Linked DNA regions of Homo sapiens: region 1 is linked to region 2. The links come from fine-mapping of genetic effects on gene expression. Tissue or cell type: whole blood. Region 2 holds a variant in brackets; the other region holds the start of a gene. All regions are shown on one strand. Distances are from middle to middle.

Region 1 (8,089 bases), 38 kb after region 2:
TATCCACCAGGCTTGTCAATATCTTTTTAAGAAAATGATTTTTTCAAAAATGTAAATAAATCAAAACCCTATAAAATCTACACACTTAAGTAGCTAGTTCTTCAGTAACAGAGAGCTCTGACCTTTCATGTAAAAGCTTTTGTAAATATTAGTCAAAGTGAATATTATTCACTTTGTAAAGTAATAATATTCGATTAGATCATGTTGGAGTTTTGTTTTTTTCATCAATTAATTGTTATTAATTCTAATCTAAGGAGAAATAAGATAAAATCATGTTTTAAATCTGCTTTAATATTCTGGTAGTATATTGGGAAAAAATACATGCTATTTCATCCACTCCCTCTGCAACAAATACACCCTCATTCAACAGTAAATACATTTCAGGTTCTGTCCTTGGCGGTAAGGATGCTACTGAGGGGAAGACACCAAATGCCTTGTTTTCATGGTATATTCCCTTTTGGTACTATTCATTTTATGGAGGCTTTATTTAGGTTAATAGCATAATATATTTATAATGTGTGAAGATCTGTGGGTTTATTCAACAAATCATTTGTTGAGTACCTTATATATTCCAGACATTGTTCTAGGCACTGATATTACAGCAGTGAACAAAACAGACAAATCCGCTGCTTCCATGGAGCTTATATTGGAGGTTGGGTGGCAGTAAAGTAGATAAACATAAGGCAGGTGGTAAACGCTCTAAAGAAAAATAAAGCACAGTGATGAGCCAGCTAGTCATGAGAAGGAGTTCTGTTTTACGTAGGGGTATCAGGGAAGGCCTCACTTGTAAGATATGGCACTGTTACAGAGACACGATGAAGTGAGGAAACTAGTTAGCCAGGCAGACTATTTGGGGAATTATTCCAGGCTGACGGAAAATTGCAAGTGCAGATACACGAATGCAGGATTAGGCTTGGTGTATCTGAGTGGAACCAACAGAGCAAGGGAGGAGTGTTAGGAAATGAGGGTAAAAGGGCAGAGGAGTAAAATTAAATAAGACAGTGTACTCCATAAAAAAGTAATTGCATTTTACTTGGAAATGGGAAGCCATGGGAAGGTTATGAGCAGGGGAGAGGCATGACCACATTTATTTCATAAAACAATTGCTTTAGCTACTATTGAGACTATGACTTTGGAAGGGCAAGAGCAGAAGCAAGAACATGACAAGGCTATTGCAGTTATTCAGGTGAGAGATGGGTGGCCTGGCCTGCACTGCTGGCACTGGAGATGGGGAGAAGTGGTCAGATTCTGAATGTATTTCAAATGTTTATGCTGAGTGAAAGAGTCAGACAAAAAAAGAATGTATACGATATTATTCCATTTATATCAAATTCTAGAAAATGCAAACCAATCTGCAGTGACAGAAGGTTGTCTGAAGACAGCTGGGACAAGGGAGGGAGGGATTATAAAGGATCATGAGAACTCTTTCAGAGGTGATGTTGATGAATATGTTAATTAACTTCATTGTGGTAATGGTCTCATGGGTGTAGACATATGTCAAAAATTATCATTGTACACTTTAAACATGTGCAATTTATTGTAGGTTAATTATACTTCAACAAAGCTATTAAAAAAGACATGGGATTGTCTGATGGATTGGACTTGGGTGTGAGAAAAAAGAGGTCGAGGATGGTTTGTATGTTTTTGGCTTAAGCACCTAGAAGATAGGAATTAAATTGTCATTCCTATTCCTCAAATAGGGAAGACCGAAAGGAGCAGAGTTTGAGAGAAAAAGATAAAGAGTTTGGTTTTCAACATATTGTTAGAGATGCCTATTAGACACATCTAAGATATTAAAACAAATAAATACACAGTAGAAAAGAAATGAAGAATGAACAGAACTACTACTTGGATAGAAAGTGCTTGTCCGTGACCTTACCAAATGTATATTTCTCAAGACAGCATTGGAATTACATTGGCCCAGTAGGAACTCTCACGGCTCCTACAGACAAAAATTTGTGAGCATCTGTTTACCGTTTTTTCCTTATTCGATATAATGGATTGCACAGACAAGCCACATTCTTTCTTCTTGCTTTTAAGTAATACGATTTGTTTGGGAAACCAGCTGCTGGGTTTGTTGTTCAAGGTTGATGAGTAACCTTAGAGATTGCAATGAGAAGCTGCTGGTCACAGACAGATGCCAAGTTCTTCAACCAGGGCTGGAGAGCATTGTAGCCACTCTTCTGGAGAGCATTGTAGCCACTCTTCTCTGGGCTGACCTGCTCATGCAGTCCCCCGCTTTTTTAACTGCACATATAAATCATCCAGTTATAGTATGATTTAAATAAGATTTTGCTTCCCTGCTCAGAAAGAAAGTACAAAAATTGCTTGTTGCTTGATGGAGGCTTTACAGAGCTGTGATTAAAAAGGAGCATACTACCTGGGTTTGAATCTTAGCTCCATCACTCACTAGGTGTTTGAATGCCTTAAGGTAGTCATCTCTGAAATGGGGATCATAATAGGACCTACTACTCTAAGGTGCGATTGTTGTGAAGATTAATCTTAATTCTGGCATGAAATAAGTATAAAATGGAAGCTCATCACACTGTTATTAAATTAATTTACTTTTTTCCTATGGATATAGATCTAGGAATCTCAAGATCTCAGCCCAAGGACCATTACCCATTTCTATCAACGACCAAGCAGGCCACGGGCTCTGATTTATATCCTCAGCCCCCTATTCCACTCACCTCCCCCTTTCTTAATCAAAGAGCACCACGGGATGGTGCCCCCAAGGAAGCCCTGGGAGGCTGAAAAGGAGGGAGCCTGAAACCAGAGACTAACAGTGGCAAATCGCGGGTGGGATTTGGCAGTTCAGAAAAGGAGGTACCATGCCAAGAGTGGGGGTAGCGGGGTGAAGTAGCGGGGTGAAGTGGGGGGCTGGTTCGGGACAGGCCACAAACCAGAAACTGCGAGAAGGCGCCAGAAGGGACCTGTTGAGATGGCGCAGGGTTGGGGGACCCAAGCGCGCGGGGAGGGGTGAACTAAGAATGGAGTCACGCGGAGGTGCTGCGAGGGACTGGGGCAAAGGCAGGTGATTGGGCGAGGGAGTCCTGGTTGCCACGGCAGCGACCAGAGGAGAAGGCTTCGAGGAGAGGAGGAGGCTGCTGTCAGTCCTCCTCCTGGAGGTCTCCCGCATCCCTCCTAGAGCCTCTGCTGACGTGTCAGTCGGAAACTGCTCAGACCTTCGCGGGCGCCGCCCCTCTGCGCTTGTCTTCCCACATGCCCCCGGCGCTCCGCCTGGTCCCTGCCCGCGTCCCTGCCCCCGTCCCTGCCCCCGTCCCTGCCCCCGTCCCCGCCCCGTCCCCGCCCCCGCCCCCGCCCCCGTCCCCGCCCCCGTCCCCGCCCCGTCCCCGCCCCAGCCCCCGCCCCAGCCCCCCCGTCCCCGCCCCGTCCCCGCCCCCGTCCCGCCCCTCTGCGCCCGCCCCGGCCTCCTCCTCCGCGTCACCGGCTCCCCGAGGTGACCACAACATGGCTGCGGCGCCTGGGCTGCTCGTCTGGCTGCTCGTGCTCCGGCTGCCCTGGCGGGTGCCGGGCCAGCTGGACCCCAGCACTGGCCGGCGGTTCTCGGAGCACAAACTCTGCGCGGACGACGAATGCAGCAGTGAGTGCGCTGGAGGGGCGGCTGGCCTCGGGGCGGCTGGCCTTGGGGTCTCCGCCGGCCCCGGGGGTCTCCGCGGCGGCGCCGCCTGGGCTGTGCGGGGACGGGAGTTCCGCAGCCCCTGGCCGGCCCGGGGGTCGCAGGCGGGATGGGCTGAACGCGGGGGTGGGCGCGCTCCGGGTCCCTGTGTCTGCCTTCTCCCGCTCTGCCTGCGCCCGGCCCCTCGGGCCTGACCATGGGGGCTGCACCTCCCACTTGTTGCCAGCGTTTTATTTTTCCTCTGCTGAGGCGGGGGGTTGCTTGCGGTGGTCCCCGGCTTCCCCAATAGTGGCTCACAGCGTCCCCTTCCCACCCCCCCAATCCGCCTGGGCTCGGAGGGTAGATGTGGTTGCGCGCCGCGCGTCTGGGCTCCCCACGCCGCAACCAAAGCTTTCCTGCCCGCGCTGCGGGGACCTCGGTGGGTGCATCACCCCGGCAGATGCGCTAAGGGCTCGGTGGGCGTTTTCCCAGTGGCAGGTTGATGGTGGGGTTTGTTTGGAAAGGCTCCCTGGCGCTGCTCCTTTGCCCTTCTGCTTTATTGGGATTTGGGCTTGTACCGCCTTTTGAACAGGAATTGGGAGTTTAGGTTTGGGACGAGTCTGGAGTCCAAGCACTCATTGTATTCCGAGGTCTCTGCCCCGACTTTGATCAATCCTGTCGTTTCTGTGCTTGGAAGCCGCCTTGCAGACTGCTAGGCAGGACTGCAGGAAGACCAAAATCTTTCGCTCTGCAGAGACCGAGGATCTGCACCGGCCACCTGGGACCGGCAGCCTCCTCTTCTGTGCGCAGGAAGCGGAATTGCTCTCCAGTCTGGGATTGGAGGTGGGCGGTGGAGAGGGCACAGATCTTCAGGCTCAGATGAAGAAGGTTATTACAGGAATGACAGTAAATACTCCAAGGGTCTCATAAGCCAAGCTTGGTTTAGCCTTAGCCGCTTGCGTGTTGAAACCTCTTCCCTCTATGTTCGCCGGACCAGGATCATTTTAGGGCCTCCCAGACCGTCTCAACCTTGTAACTTACTGATAGCCACTGCAGAAACGGTTTTTCATACACTGTTAAGCAATGCCTATAGAAACGTATTCATTTTAAGAAGGCCAAGAACTCTATGGTTTAGCTATTTATATTCAAATTGATGTTATCAAAACCGAATTTCATAATATGAACTGTTTGTATCTCTACAACACTAATCAAGAAAAGAGATCTCTAATGAGTGTGAAGCCATTCCTAGAGATAACCCTGTGGTTGATGTAAATAAACACTACAAAAGCGGTACAACTGCCATGATTTTTCCCTTTAGTTTTCTTGGGTCAAAGCCACGCTGTTACCCATTTGCCGTTGGCAATGGCAAGATAGTTGGTATTCTTTGCTTGCAAGCATTGCCCTGCCTGGGTTCCTCAAAACAGGTTACCTGGAGAATCATCACATCACTGATGCTTCTTCAGTACTGAGGCATGATGTTAGAAGAGCTCACGGTTGTAACATAACTTGAGAAATGGTACGTGTTCAGAGGAAACCAAATACAATAGGCATCAACAGGAGCAAGGTCTAGATGGGTCTGTGTTGTGTTGTAGAAAGTGTTTAGTAATGTGAGTATGTACGGTGCCCTTGTGTGGTTTTCAAATAGCTGTTCCACAGGGTGCATTTTGTTGGCATCTCAAATATTATTATAAATCCTCTATGATCTATTGTAAGGGGGAGCAAAAGAAACATTGCCATTTTCAATTCTGATCTTATTCCCAACCTTAAATTGTCCATCATCTTAAACCTGGCCTCACACTCAATTATATCTGAGCTACAAAGCTGACATGTTGGAAAGTAATCAGAGTTTAGCTTCAAAAAACAAGTAGCCCCTTCCAAATCTATATGCGTGTATAGCCATTTAAAGGCACGTTTTTAATGTATTTTATTGCAAATTGGCTTTTGGAAAAAATCTTATTTCTATTCGTCCTTCTTTGTCTCTGCTATTTAGATGTATTTATTGTCCATTTCATCTTACATGGGAAACTGTGTATGTGGTCAACAAAAATAAAAGTACTGCTTCAGCCAGTTTCTAGATCAAGCGTGATTGAATTACTGACCTATTCTCATAGTTTTGCTTAGTCCCAGCCAAATGAGATGTCGACTTTTGATTTTGTTTATAGAAAAATATACATAAGGGTATTCTTTCCTTTGTTTTGAAACTTAATTTTGGATACAGTCAACATTATTTACTTTCAGAAAATATTGCCTTGTGATGTAATTGAATCTATAGTAGGGTGTGATAGATATCTTTTCCCATTAATTTATCCAGACACTGTACTAAGGGAACAACTTGGCTGCAAATGAAATTGACAGTGTTTACTGCTACATAGTACTGGTTACAGTCACTTGAAGATAGACCCTTTTAGTGGTTAGTTCAAGTTAATTGACCTCTTGGGGGTTCCTGGGTACTCTAGTTCCCTATTACCCGTTCATGTAGCCATGCTTAAGTTAATCATCATCTGGGCTTGAATTTACCCATTTGCAAAAGGAAGCTTTTTATGAATATGAAACAGAAAAGATTGAGGACTAGAAGGTTAGAGAGGGAATCGAGAGTTTCACTTGGGTGAGAAAAGCCATGTGTGGTAGTTGGCACATTGCTTTTTGTTTCTCAGTATTATCCATAGAGAAAAATAGAGAAGGTTTTCCTTTCCCTTGTCTGCTTGCAGAAGGTATGATTTATAGCAGTAAAGCTCAAAGGATTTGAGATACTTTGAGCATATGAAAGAAATTCCAGAGAGTACTGGAAAAACTTGGTTGTTGTTTATAGTGGGATTCTTATATTTCCTGATAAATCAATATGCACTGTGAACACTGAATCCTGATATCTGGCTATTTTTTTTCTCTCTCTTTATATACAGTGTTAATGTACCGCGGTGAGGCTCTTGAAGATTTCACAGGCCCGGATTGTCGTTTTGTGAATTTTAAAAAAGGTGATCCTGTATATGTTTACTATAAACTGGCAAGAGGATGGCCTGAAGTTTGGGCTGGAAGTGTAAGTAAAATATCGACATACTTTATTTGCTTAATTTTTATTGGCTTCTTTAGCACTGTAGAGTTAAATGACTGCATTTTCTTGGGACCTTTGATGGAGTTAACTTGTCCTCTCTGCCTGACTGTGAAAAAAGATGGCCCTGTGTCCCCAGCAGGCCTTGGGTCTGCACAGAGTAGGGGCTCAGCAGAGCCTTCTGAAATAGAACTGATTCTGGCAAGTTCCCCTCAGGGTCAACCTCTAGGATGCTGCATACGTATTAGAGGTTGAAATGGTAAGAGCTGAAAAATACTTCATTGCTTTAAAAAGGAAGTATTCATAGGAATTAGACTTACTCCTGTAAACTATATGTGAGAGAGTGTTTCAGGCATGTAAGCTTAAAGTTGATTTTATGTGTATTTCTTTGTTTATATTATTATTTATGAAAAAGTGGCAGTCTTGGGAACAGTTCCCTAATCATCTGTGCTATTATAAGTCTGTAAAAAAGCAAAATGTTGTTTCTCGTGTGCTTTCTTGTTTGTTTGTTTTTTTTTTTTTGAGGCGGAGTCTTGCTCTGTCGCCCAGGCTGGAGTGCCGTGGCGCGATCTCGGCTCACTGCAAGCTCCGCCTCCCGGGTTCACGCCATTCTCCTGCCTCAGCCTCCCGAGTAGCTGGGGCTGCAGGTGCCTGCCACCACACGGCTAATTTTTTGTATTTTTTTAGTAGAGACGGGGTTTCACTGTGTTAGCTAGGTCTCGATCTCCTGACCTTGTGATCCACCCACCTTGACCTCCCAAAGTGCTGGGATTACAGGCGTGAGCCACCGCAACCAGCCTCTTGTTTGTATTTTTGTTTGCAGCCTTGGGGTCATCCTTGTCCTGCTTTTCAGACACTTGTGTCTGGAGGTTACCCCAGGGGATTGATTCCCAGCTGATTTTATGGGTACCCTGCTATCAGACCTGGCAATCAATGACTGCATCATGCTTTGGTATTTTTAATGAGGAGATTCACTGGGAGTGACCTGATTGAGAGGCCTGTCTTATGAGTTATTGTCCTTTCCTTTTTAGAAAGCGTGATATGTGGACTGTGTCTTTACTTCAAGTAGTAAGGGTCCTCGATATCTTTAGGATTGTCCCAACTTAGAGAAATACCCATCCCGACTATGAAAGTTTTCACTGTCAGTAAAACACCAAACAAACAAAGAGAAAATAAGGCTTGAGAAATCCCCTTGGGGAAAATAGACTGATTTTGTTGGCATTCCAGGTTCCTAGGGAGTAATCTTGGGAAACAACAACTGGTCAGGTTCAGCTCTCCTATTTAGAGAGCATCCCAAGTGACTTGCTCCATACCAAAACAAATCTATTCTATTTCCTTCAAGTCTACCTAATGAGATTTGTTGATAATCTTTACTCTTGGAAATGTTTTTCCATGTACCTAGGCTGCGTTTTTTCATAGAAAAG
Region 2 (8,108 bases):
GTAAGAATGAGGGTTTGGGACAGCGATCCAATGAGTCTTGAAGAATAGAGAGCATTCTAGAAGAGGAGACTCTACAAAGGCCTCACAAGATTATCATGATGAAGAGAGCATTTCAGAGTATCTTGAAAGAAGAGGGAAGGGAATCGAAATTAGTGAAACTACATGCCCAGAGACCAAGGAAATACCACTTATCACATAAGGATAATAAGGAAATACTGCTTACCACATAAGAAGTGATAAATAGTAGGACTAAGATATGGAGGAGGATGAAAACAGAAAGGGGTTAATCATAGAGATTAGGTTAATCTCGAGGATTATCCCCTACGGAGAAACTATACAAGGCAAGCGAATTGCAAAGAATCATACAGTTCCAGTGAATGCAAATCTGGGCATAAATGAAGATGATAACACCATTGAAGGTTAAGAGAAGGGGAATCAGTTTGAGAACTGAATGGTCAACTTCTGGTATAGTCAATAAATCAAGAAAATTGTCCATTATAACCTTTACACAAAAATGAAATGACCATCTTGACCTATTCTTTAAACATATTATTCTGAGAAATAACATTACAAAGTAAATTAAACTCCATTCTAGGCACACAGGAAGAAATGTTTATTATATGTAATAATGACTGCTGAAGAAAATCTGTAGCCTTTCTTAGAAATTGGCAAAGACTTTCTTCTTGACCAAACTCCAGCCAGGCTCCTCTGAGCTCTCTTCTGGACTAGGCCTCAAACTTGGCCAATAAATACTTGAACATAGTTTCTAGAACACTAACATAGTTTCTAACAGCTCAAGGCCACATCCCCAGGATGACCCCAGCCCCTCTTGAAATGTTTGCCTGGGAAAACTCCAGAAGAATTTACTGGTGGTTCTGCCTTCTGCTTTTTAAGCTCCCCACCCCCACCCTTTACAACCCCAAGTCACCTCCATAGAAATTGGAATGGAGTTTAGCTCTTCCTCCTGTCAGTAGTTACTGAATCAAACCTGTCTCCACTGCTGTGTCTGGCTGTGTTTATCCTGGACTAAATCACATTCAAAACAGCAATGAACCTAAAATGATCATGAACTTAATTATGAACCATCTAATTTATGATTGAAGCTTTTTATATATCAGAAATATTATAAAGGATCAAGAATTTTAAATCCATAAAAAGTCTGTTCTCCATAATATCTGGATGAAGTCAATAGGGAAATTACTAGATTACTCCTTAAGATCCCTCTGCCCCTCAGTCTCATCATAAGAAAAAGTTTACCTGTATTCACTTACCAAGCTTTGACAATTCCATCTTCTTTTCAGACCAGGTATAATACTGTAAAAGCCCTTTATAGGCCTGAATAAGGTTGATTAATATTTCCCGGGAAGACGTATTTTCACCATGTCTCCATGTCTCTGCCTCACTCAGATTTCTCTTAGCATCTTTAAGCATTCCATGATGCAGAAGGTATAATGCATGTTGTAAGGAGATCTGCAAAAATAATAAGGGTACACCGCCATTTAAGCCATTAGATAACCATTAGTCAAAAAGCTCAGTAAATATATAATACATGCTGGGCAAAGACCTTGGTAGGATACAAATAACTTGACATGGAAAATTTTGATGTTGGGTACAATCTGGCAAAGAAGTAAGACATAGGAAACAATTAACACTATGTAAATATGAGCTAAATTATGTAAACTTACAAACAAAAGACAGTGTGATATAGTGGGGAAAAAAGAGGTTTTGAAGATGAGTGTCTTGGTTCATACACCACTTAAAAACTAAATAAACCTGGGTAAATTATTCACTCTTTGTGAGTCTCATTTGTTTTACGGAACATTACTGCCCCTTCAGAAGGGTGTTTTCAAGATTAAATGAGATAATACTTGCAAATCACCTAATAGTTTGGCTCATAGCAGACATTCAACAAATATTACTATTTTATACATGTTATATAAGCTTAGAGAAAATATCTTAATAAGGGATGCTGAAGAATGGCTTCAGTTCAGATGGAGAGGAAAGTGTATCCCTGATACAGGAGAAGCAGGAAGAAAAATTATACAAAGAATGAGTATTACAAAAAGGGAAGACATTAAAGAGGAGAATAATGAGAACTACAATTAATCATATGGGTAGAGCCAAAGTACTGCAATAAGTTGTCAACTGGCCTCTCCATTCCTGCCTCCCTACAATCCATCTTTCAAGTGGCTACCAAAGAAATTTCATCTTGTTAGTCATTTGCATAAACTCCTTCAATGGCTCCCACTGACTACAGAATTAAAATCCAAGTTCCCTGGGTATGGCACACAGGGCCCAGCCTACTTCCCCCAACTTCTACCCAAGTGATTTTTAGAGTAACTAAATTATTGGATGTAGGGCTTTTAAACTCTTTATAACCCCCGCCATGCAGGGCTGCCCTTTCCCCTAATCTGCCTAGTGAATGGCCAATTGCTTTTGCAAACTTATCTCAAGTATCACTTTCATTCTTTTCCTGATTCCCCTACCCATTAAATCCCAACCCTCTCTAGTTCCAGAGAACTGGCCATTTTCTCCTTTATCTTCTCACCATTTGTTACATTTCTACTATGGTACCCATAACACTTCATTCCATTTACATGATCTTCCTCTACTATAAGAACCATGTCTAGCATATTGCCTGGTAAGCGGCAATAAGTGTTTTTAAAATTATTAACAACAAAAAAAATTGTATTATCTATCCTAATTATCACTCTCAGACTCTTATTGAGAAATGAGGTTCCCTTTCAGTTTCTTTACTTCAACTGAGTAGATTCTATGAGCCAAAAGGGACCTAACCAACAGTTTACTCTTCACACTCCCTCCCTAATTAAATGGCTATCCAGTTTAGACCTGAAAAAAGAGACGCAGAGCACACATCAGGGTAGGCCATTCCCATTTCCAATTGTTTAGTTAGAAAGCTTTTTCTTAAGTAGAACCGTAAACTGCCCCCATTTAATTTCCACTCACAGTATACCTGGTCTACCAGAGAACAAAATCGTAAGAGCATCTGGCACACAAATAGACACTCAAAACATTTTTTTAAAGCAAAGCATTTACAAACCTGTATTGAAAAAGTGCTCTTTGAGACAAAAACATAGAGAGGGAGATACAATATTTTGAAAATGTCTCAATCTTTTTGGATAAGACTTTTACAAAAGGATATATGAACTTGGAGGTGAAGATTCCACCTAAACATTAGAAGTATTAAAATATTTTCACGTATTTAAATTCCCAACTTGTTTAGCTCTTTCCTTTTCTAAACACCAACTCTAAGCTCAAGTGACTTCAGCAAACATTTTAGAATCTGGCCCATCATCATACCACTGCAATCTCTGAATAACTGGTTTTGGCAGCCAGAAGAAATATACAAAGAAAAGGAATTTTTAGTCAGAGAACACAGGAGGCGCCTGAAAATCAAGAAGTAAATGGTTCTCATAA[C/T]GCTCTTTTCTTTCAGTTTCTCTTATTTATCCAGAATGTCTTATCCTTGTCCCACATTTTTTAGGTTAACTACCTTATCACTGACACAAGCAATTAGAAAAAAAAAAGAATACTGCAAGTGTAAATTCACAAAGCCCATATTCTCACCTTTAAATAATTCATGACGCCAATATTTTTCATCCGGTTAGCAAAAGTATTGAAACTCTCCATGTTGCTTTTGGGATGATAAAATAGAATTTCACTTCCGAGCTTCCAAATAATCTGTCAAAGCAGAAATTACTGCCAAAATGTAAAATTTTTGCCTTAACCAATTTCTGTCTAAGATATTGTTTTCCTGATTACAACATTAATAACCTGTGATTCCTTTTCCAGAGACCACTACCGTCAACATTTTACTCTACTTTGCCATGTAAAATTAATACTACTTCCTTATGTGATAGAATAGTTTTAACCTTTCAAATTTCTATTAAAATATCAGATAGTATAATAGCATCATTATTAATTTAGTAGTTTAAAGAAAGTAGACAGTTAAGATACATATTTAATATAAAATGTTTAATTGGTATGGAAGGAAGAATATTAAAGTCAGAAAATTTGGGTTCTAATAATATTGGCTTCTTCATTGGTCTCAGCCTCTTCTTCATCATCTGCAAAATGAGGGCAACAAACTACACATTTCCTGAGAGCCCATCAAATTCTACAACTATTGACTACATTTATTCTATATTTAGAATGCCAATTTAAGAATTTTGATTAGCTATGGACAAATCTTAATAAAAAAATATTTTATCCTCAGATCACCAAAACTTTGGCGGCAGAACTTGGAGCTCTTTTTTCATGAGAGCAAATCTCTATTTCGCTAACCTCAATTTAAAGTAATCAATAATACCAACTTCAAAGTAAATTAAACTGAACTGTAAATCAATTATTTCTATGAACATACATATTGGTTATATGTGGATACACACACTATCACTGCTATAGTTATATATGATACACATATTATCATTTGATATAAGGATCCTCATCTTCCCAACTCAGAGATATCAAGATTTCATTTGTAGAATATCACACTGTAGTATTTGGGAGCTTAAAGAAAACCTGGGTCTTGGATCACCTACCACCAGGGATGGGTAAATGCAGGGGGGGAAGAAAAGCAGGAAAAAAAAAAAAAAGAAAACTTTGAGATTATGATAGCTATTCTCACCACCAGTGTACACAGTAATTACATGGGACACCAGTTAAAAATAGGTATTCTGGGCCAGGCGCGGTGGCTCACACCTGTAATCCCAGGATTTTGGGAGGCCGAGGCGGGTGGATCACGAGGTCAGGAGAGTGAGACCATCCTGGCTAACACGGTGAAACCCCGTCTCTACTAAAAATACAAAAAATTAGCCAGGCGTCGTGGCGGGAGGCGGAGCTTGCAGCGAGCCAAGATCGTGCCACTGCACTCCAGCCTGGGTGACAAAGTGAGTGAGACTCCATCTCAAAAAATAAAAAAATACAAATAAAAGATACTCTGACTCAATAGACAGGGGTGGAGTAAAGGAATTTATACTTTGAATGAAAGCCCTAGGTGATCCAAAGAGAGCCAAAGAAGTGCTCAAAAACCACTGATCCAATTCCTTCATTTTACAAAACAAAATCTGGACAACAAGAGGCTGTAACATGTTCAATGTTTTACAGGAGTATGTAACTTAAGTCCATAAATTAAATTTTCAATGAATGGTTAAACTTTTTTTTCAGCTTCTCTTTTTTATTTTTTTTGCTCTAGAAGATAACTAATTGATGCAATGGTGACTGTGTTAGTAAAACCTATGAGACACTCATGTCAAGTTATTTGTGGGTAAACTGTCTTTTACTGAAGAAATTTAGCAGTATATGCCAGGCACTGTTTTAACCCTGCCCTGTGAAATTTACATTCTATGTAGAGAGACAAACAATAACCAAGAAATATAATTAAATTGTCAACTGTTAGAGGAAAAGAATGCAGCAGGACAAGGAGATCAGGAGTGCCATTCAGAAAGTGCAGGTTGCAGTTGGAGTAAGGCAATTGCAATTTTAAATAGTCAAAGTAGGCCTCAATGAAAAGGGGCCTTGAAGGAGGGTAGCTGCAGTGATAGCTGAAGAAAGAGCTTTCCAAGAACTGGTTAAGGCAAAGGCAATCAGTCAGGAATATGCCTGGCCCATTCAAGTAAGAACAAGGAGACCAGTGAGGATGGAAAAGAAAAAACAAGCAGGATAATACAGGTTGAGTATCCCTTATCTGAAATCGTTGGGACCAGAAATGTTTCAGACTTGAAATTGTTTCCGCTTTTTAAATATTTGTATATACATAATGAGACTGGGGATAGGACCAAAGGCTAAACATGAAATTCACTTATGTTTCATATACACCTATACATATAGCCTGAAGGTAATTTTATATAATATTCTTAAAATTTTGTGCATGAAACAAAATTTGTATACATTGAACCATTAGAAAGCAAAGGTGTCACTATCTCATGTCAGTAATGAAAAAGCTTTGAAGCATTCTGGTTTTCACATTTTTGAATTCGGAATGCTCCACCTGTTTCAGGAGATGAAGTCAGAGAGGTCAAACAAGGAAAGGAAGTGAGCACATCACATAGGAATTTATAGGCAATTATGACTTTGGCTTTTACTGAATGAAATGGAAAGCTATTACAGTGTTTTCAGCAGAGGAGTGACATGATCTGATATGTTTTAAAAAGCTCACTCTGAATCATTAGTCATTAGAGAAATGCAAATCATAACCAGGATGATGCCACTTCACAACCACAAGGATGACTATTATCAGTAAGACAGGACAATAACAAAATATTGGCAAGGATTAGAGAAATTAGAAGCCTCAGATATTGCTGGTGAGAATATAAATGGTATGGCCACTTTGGAAAACAGTCTGGCAGTTCCTCAAGAGGCTAAACATAGTGTTACCATATGACCAGCAATTCCACTCCCAGGTGTAGACCCAGGAGAAATTAAAACAAACGTCCACACAAAAACCTGTACACAAATGTTCGCAGAAGCATTATTTCCAATAACCGAAAAGCAAAAACAACCTAAGTGTCTAACAACTGATAAATGGACAAATAAAACATGGTATTTCCATATGACAGATTATTTGGCAATAAAAGTAATGAAGTACTTATACATGCTACAACATGGATAAACCATGAAAACATTATGCCAAGTGAAAGAAATCATTTACAAAAGGCCACATATTGTACAAAACCACTTATATGAAATGTCCAGAATAGAAAATAGATTAGGCTGGCCATAGTGGCTCACGCTTGCAATACCAGCACTTTGGGGAGGCCGAGGTGGACAGATCACTTGAGGCCAGGAGTTCAAGACCTGCCTGGCCAACAGAGTGAAACCCAGTCTCCACTAAAAATACAAAAAACTAGATAGGTGTGGTGGTGCATGCCTGCAATCCCAGCCACCCAAGAGGCTGAGGTACAAGAATCACTTGAACACAGGAGCTGGAGGTTGCAGTGAGCAGAGATCATGCCACTGCACTCCAGCCTGGGCAACAGAGCAAGACTCCGTTTCAAAAGAAAACAAAAAAAGAAAAAGAAAGTAATAGATTAGTGGCTGCCAGTGTCCGGCAGCTGTGAGGAGGAATGGGGAAGGACTGCAAGTGGGTACAGGGTTTTGGTTTCATGGGAGAAAAAAAAGGTTCTAAATTTAGAGTGTGGTAATGGTTGGTTGCACAACTCTGTAAATGTATGAAAATACATTGAATTGTACAATTTAAGTGGGTGATGGCGTATAAAAAACGTCTTGATAAAACGAAAAAAAAAAGGATCACTCTAGTTGGAAAAAGAGAACAACTCTTTCAAGAAGTTTTGCTGAAAGAGAGTAAAACAATGAAGTATAGTCTATGGGGGAAGTTTGGGTCAAGAGATGATTTTAAGATAGAATAGGCTGGGCATGGTGGCTCACACCTGTAATCCCAGCACTTTGGGAGGCCGAGGCAGGCGGATCACGAGGTCAAGAGATTGAGACCGTCCTGGCCAACCTGGTGAAACCCCGTCTCTACCAAAATACAAAAAATTAGCCGGGCGTGGTGGTACATGCCTGTAGTCCCAGCTACTCAGGAGGCTGAGGCAGGGGAATCACTTGAACCCAGGAGGTAAGAGATTGCAGTGAGCCGAGATCGCGCTACTTCACTCCAGCCTGGCGACAGAGCAAGACTCCGTCTCAAAAAAAAAAAAAAAAGATAGAATAACAAAATTTTTACATGATGATGGGAAACATCCATAAAGAGGGGGGAAAAGGAAGAATTATTGGAATGAACATTTTAGTCCCCTTTAAAATAAGAGGTAAAAAGAAGTGTGCAAAAAAGGTCCCAATACAAACTCTCCACTCAAAAGTAGTTTTAGTAGCTTTTAGCAAAATCACTGAGATTCTGTAAAAGCTACTGTAGGTGAAGCTGTAGGCATAAACTTCTGGGAATCTATCATTTCTTCCAGCAAACTCAAATTTTATTTACCTCAGGTGCAGCCTGCCTTTTGTAGCTATCTGAATCTTCCAAGGTCTGAAAATAACTGTACATGTATTCTGCAGCTTGCTGCCATTGGTGCTTCAGCAGAGCTTCTTGGATAAAACTTAAACAAGCACTTGTTGTCTGAGCAAAATCCTTCCTC

Evidence for each region. PIP is the estimated chance that this variant, and not a neighbour inherited with it, causes the effect.
Region 1: it holds the start of MIA3, and the variant in region 2 is fine-mapped to the expression of MIA3 in whole blood (INTERVAL, PIP above 0.99).

Annotation. Positions count from the first base shown.
Region 1 is chr1:222,614,640-222,622,728 of GRCh38, forward strand. It overlaps MIA3 (MIA SH3 domain ER export factor 3), which reads left to right and starts at 3,458. Exons shown (of 28, transcript NM_198551.4): 1 at 3,458-3,604; 2 at 6,520-6,653. The coding sequence starts at 3,472. RefSeq lists a cis regulatory region at 1,868-2,450, silencers at 3,256-3,325, 3,496-3,755 and enhancers at 3,276-4,158, 4,439-4,498.
Region 2 is chr1:222,576,174-222,584,281 of GRCh38, forward strand. It overlaps TAF1A (TATA-box binding protein associated factor, RNA polymerase I subunit A), which reads right to left. Exons shown (of 11, transcript NM_005681.4): 3 at 7,955-8,108; 4 at 3,586-3,699; 5 at 1,272-1,470. Among named protein-coding and RNA genes, the nearest start is that of TAF1A-AS1, 9.7 kb to the right of the region's middle. RefSeq lists an enhancer at 6,173-6,312. The variant C/T (reference allele first, on the strand shown) is at 3,439.